2 separate regions of the Homo sapiens genome follow, and region 2 is linked to region 1. Evidence: fine-mapped expression QTL. Tissue or cell type: whole blood. Region 1 holds a variant in brackets; the other region holds the start of a gene. All regions are shown on one strand. Distances are between the middles of the regions.

Region 1 (2,500 bases):
GATAAAGTGTTAAAGTCCTAACATACAAAAAAAAAAAAGACTGTCATCATGTATGCCTTGAGTGTCCTCAGCTGAGAAGCTTTTGTTAGCTTTTCTGCTTTTAGTTATGAGAAGGTGATACTTCAAACGGAGTGTCCATAGGAATTATTTTTCACATTAATCAGGAAAAGTTGCCTTTCCAGGCCCCATCCTTCATAAACACACCTATCCGGATGTCCTTTATCCTGGGTCTTCAAGAATCATGTCAATGGATAAAATAGTGATATATCAAGCAATGGTTGGAAAAAATTTAAAAGGAATATTACTACCTTCTTCAGACATTCTTGAGGAAAATGCATGAGGATACAGTCAATAGGTACATGCCAGGTTACAAGTCTGTCCTGAAAGCCTGTGTGATAGATGTTACCCAGTCTTCTTCTGTCTTGAACACTGAAATCAATGATCACATTTCTGTTTATCCATTTCCAATGAGAACGCTGGATTCTCTCTTCCAGACTACCTAACTGACTCATTTTACAAATTCTGCTGTCTAAGATAGGACACGAGGTAAGGGTCCCTTTCACTAATGCTTCTGAAGAGCACGTCCAGGGCCAGGTCCCCTTTCTTCTCCACCATGCTCAGCAAGGCCTCATTCTTGCTCTGCCGTGTCTTTTCCTGCTCCACCAGCTCCTTCTCATTCTCAGTAAGAACCTCATTGTCTTGGAGATCATCGAGCACCCCTTTCAGGTCCCCCATCCTGGCTTGGAGTTGCCGGTGGTTCTCCTTCACAAAGGCTGCACCTGGATGAAAGGGGGAGTTTCAGACTTTGAGAATCGTTCACTTACAGGATTCAGGATCTATACCAAGCTTAGAGTCAAAATTCAGGGGTGGGAGATTGCTCCTTGTGTCTGTAGCTTAATTTGTGGACATACAAAATCACACACATTCACAGAGCAAATATACCCTTTGCAGTATCAAATGCAT[T/C]GAGGTGTCTCAAATAATGTATCTTCCTCAGTCCTACTCCTCTCATCCATTTCTTGAAGCCTGTTTCTTCCTAGTTGGTGTTTTTCATTGAAATCCTAGACAGAGCTCTATCTTGCTGTACATACATTTATATATAAATCCCTCTAACAACGAAACACAAATCTTCTAGTTCATACATTGTCAGAAACTGTGCATGATGCTAGAGGTATGGAGAAGGATTCAGCTGGATCCCCAAAGCTTAGCTGGCAGAGCTATGAAAGAAGAGATTTAACTGGAGACATACAATGCATAGAAAAGGAAGAACAGGGGAAAAGATACAGACTTTTTTCCATCATGTAGACTCAGGGTTTACGTTGTGCCCCATATAATGTCTGTATAAACTTGGCCAAATCATATTACTTCCATATCACGTGGTTTAGAATGCATGGAGGTTGAGGTGTGATTTTGACTCAAGACATGTTCTGGACCAGCTTCCTGTAGACTGAGCTACTAAGCTTTGATTTCAACGTGCAGGCAACAGGTGCTATATTTTGCTCCACATCCTAAACATTATATTTAGGAAGGGTAGAAGCCTTTTGTTGGTGCTGCTCAGCCTGCAGTCACCACCTACAGAGATGTTCTTTGATTTATTTTAGGACGTCACCTTTATCTGATTCTTAACCAAGCTCCTTAGCTGATCCTCATTGCACCTCCAGATGTGAGGCATGATTTCTTTTTATTTAATCTGCCTCAATGGCCTTCCAGGCAACAACAGCTAGGAAATGGCATGATTGCCATCTCAGAAGGTGCTCTCTTTTTTCTCCCAGTGGTCTGTTTTGAGACATGAGTTCGGAAACTTACACTGTGTGGAGCCTGACAATGAAGCCAACAATATGGAAGGCGGGACGAAGACATGGAGAAACATTCCTCCCTTGTGATGTTGTTTGAGCCCATGAATCAGCCTCCCTGGAGTCAGTCCCACATCTCTTCCTTGAACTCGCCTGAGCCATGACACTCTTGATAATTTCACTCCATTTAAGTTGGACTTTCTGTCATTTGCCACACAAGACTTTACACAGATCCAGAGGACATTGCAGATTGCTGCCTTGGGTGATTTTTAAAATTAACGTGGACATGAAGTCATCAGGAGACAAGGAGTTCCAAACCTGGATTTATTGCTTACTAGATGATGGAAACTTGGTCCTCTCAGTGTTAACTCTATTTTATTTATTTACTTATTTATTTATTTATTTTGAGACAAAGTCTCACTCTTGTCCCCAGGCTGGAGTGCGATGGCACGATCTCGGCTTACTGCAATCTCCGCCCCTGGGTTCAAGCGATTCTCCTGCCTCAGCCCCCCGAGTAGCTGGGATCACAGGCATGTGCCACCACGCCCAGCTAGTTTTTGTATTTTTAGTAGAGGCAGGGTTTCACCATGTTGGCCAGGCTGGTCTCAAACTCCTGACCTCAGGTGATCCACCTGCCTCGGCCTCCCAAAGTGTTGGGATTACAAGTGTGAGCCACTGCACCCAGCCAACTCTTTATATTAAATAATGTA
Region 2 (2,673 bases), 43 kb after region 1:
TCATATTTCAATATGTTCAATCTTAGGATATATACTTCTAGGCAACCACTTAGTGACAAAAATTCTGTAGAAATCCATCATTGAAAGTTCATTATGTAAATAAATGTGAAGACTAGATAAGAACCACAGAACACAATGACATTGGAAAAAATGCCACAGTAATTCTTTGAAAAAAGAAATGCAGGCCTGGTGCGGTGGCTCATCCCTGTAATCCCAGCACTTTGGGAGGCCGAAGTGGGCAGATCACAAGTCAGGGGTTCGAGACCAGCCTGGCCAACATAGTGAAACCCCGTCTCTACTAAAAACACAAAAACAATTAGCTGGGTGTGGTGGTGGGCACCTGTAGTCGCAGCTACTCGGGAGGCTGAGGCAGGAGAGTGCTTTCAGAGAAACTTCTTGATCACAAGGGGAAATCTGAAAGTTGTCAGAACAAAATGGAGTCACTTATGTTAAGATAACCCTGACAAATAGAGCCAGGAAGGCCATGAAGAGAGGGCTCTTATCCTTGCATGCCTGAAGATGAAAAAGACTCTACAAAACCCACAACCTTACATAAAGGTCTTCACAACCTTAAAAAAATATATATTTCTGCAAGGAATGCTGCCCAGCAACTGCTGGTCCAACCTAGGACTAATGTCACCCTTGTTACTGATCTTTGTAGCCAAGGAAAATTCTGTTAAAACAATATGCAATCCTCCCCATTTCTGTCTTCCTTTATCTCCCTGAATATACACATAGTTTAATACGGCATGTCTATTCCCAATTGCAATGCTCTATTCCCAAATAAACATTGTTTCCGGCTGGGCGCAGTGGCTCACGCCTGTAATCCCAACACTTTGGGAGGCCAAGGCGGGCTGATCTCGAGGTCAAGAGACGGAGACCATCCTGGCCAACATGGTGAAACCCCGTCTCTACTAAAAAATAAAAAATTAGCTGGATGTGGTGGTGCACGCCTGTAGTCCCAGCTACTTGGGAGACTGAGGCACGAGAATCGCTTGAACCTGGGAGGCAGAGGTTGCAGTGAGCCAAGATCATGCCACTGTACTCCAGCCTAGCCACAGAGCGAGACTCCATCTCAAAAAGAAAAAAAAATTGTTTCCCTTAGGAAGCTTTCATATGTTTGTTAGTTAGGTTAACACTTCTAATAATTAAAGTTATACAGTTACAGTGTAAAATTATTAGTATTAACAACATAAACATTGGTATAAAAATTATTATTACAGAAATTAAAACAAATTGAGTGTGAGAGAGATTATTAAGACTGTCCAAGCCAAGTCACTGAAGTCATAAATTTAAGTTATGACAGGATGCCGAGCTTCCAGAGGGTTTTGTTTTTAACAAGGGAGGGGCCCTATTTCCCCTTCTGACACGCTCATATGAACTTCTCACTTTGTCGTACTCCTTCCTTGCTGACTAAGAGGAACAGAACACAGAGCAGCCTGGCGGTGTCCTACCAACAAGCCTCCGTTTCTCCTTCCTGTACACTAGGGCTCCTGAAACTCACCTGGTAAGCGCTCCAGAAAAGCAGCAGGTGGTGACTTTAGGGTAGGACGGGCCAAATGGGAGAATCCCCTTAGGTCGGTTTCTCTGGTTCTCAACTTCTTTTGAAATAACGCTCGCAGAGGAGGTGGGCTTTCTGAGAACTGAGGGAAGTAAGCTCTCAGGACTTCCGGTCGCCATGATGGCTGTGGGCAGTCAATGGGGTCAGTGCAAGCATCTGGGCCATCTTTAATGTGGGCAGGAAAAAAACACGATTACACTTACTTCTGCAGAGTTTATAATATCCTTGTTCATTATTTAAAATAAAATATCTAAGACATAGGTAATAGTATATTTTAAATAAAATTGAAGCAATATATGAAATTTCTCTGGAATTCATCCAGCCACTCTCAGCTGTTACCACTATCCAGAAACGTCTTAATCCGCCTGCATGATTTATGTATTTGGTTTGTATTTTAAATATCATTTTCTGTAATATTTAAAAGTTGTATTTGCTTGGTATCCTGCTATGCATTCTCATGCAATTTGATTTTTAATCAATATTACTTTTTTTTTTTTTTGAGATGAAGTCTCCGTCTGTCACCCAGGCTGGAGTGTAATGGAGCAATCTCGGCTCACTGCAACCTCTGCCTCCCAGGTTCAAGCGATTCTCTTGCCTCAGCCTCCCGAGTAGCTGGAATTATAGGTGCATGCCACCACGCTCGGCTAATTTTTTGTATTTTTAGTAAAGACGGAGTTTCACCATGTTGGTCAGGATGGTCTCCGTCTCTTGACCTCGAGATCAGCCCGCCTCGGCCTCCCAAAGTGCTGGGATTACAGGCGTGAGCCACTGTGCCCGGCCTTGGTTTCTAAATACTATTTTGAAGTATCTGTGGAGAAATGGTTACTTCGAGGGCTGGGGCAGGAATATATAAGATAACATTGGAACAAATTCTGACGCCAGAACATGAAGAAATATTTGAAAAAGGATGGGGCATATTGACTGAACACAGAAGACAAACATGCATGACCTCAGCCTAATCGTGAGAAAACATCAAAGAAATCCAAATTGATAAACATTCTGTAAAATAATTGGCCATGCTCAGCAAAAGTGTCACAATCACAAAAGACAAGGGAAGAATAAGAAACGGTCACAGCCTGGAGGAATCTAAGGACATAACAACTGAGTGCAAT

What was found. PIP is the estimated chance that this variant, and not a neighbour inherited with it, causes the effect.
Region 2: it holds the start of CARD8, and the variant in region 1 is fine-mapped to the expression of CARD8 in whole blood (INTERVAL, PIP 0.93).

The regions. Positions count from the first base shown.
Region 1 is chr19:48,211,197-48,213,696 of GRCh38, forward strand. CARD8 (caspase recruitment domain family member 8) reads right to left here. Exons shown (of 14, transcript NM_001184900.3): 14 at 1-779. The coding sequence ends at 514. Among named protein-coding and RNA genes, the nearest start is that of ZSWIM9, 42 kb to the left of the region's middle. The variant T/C (reference allele first, on the strand shown) is at 964.
Region 2 is chr19:48,254,288-48,256,960 of GRCh38, forward strand. It overlaps CARD8 (caspase recruitment domain family member 8), which reads right to left and starts at 1,625. Exons shown (of 14, transcript NM_001184900.3): 1 at 1,505-1,625. CARD8-AS1 (CARD8 antisense RNA 1) reads left to right here and starts at 1,388. Exons shown (of 2, transcript NR_040599.1): 1 at 1,388-1,507; 2 at 2,064-2,673. RefSeq lists an enhancer at 1,494-1,733.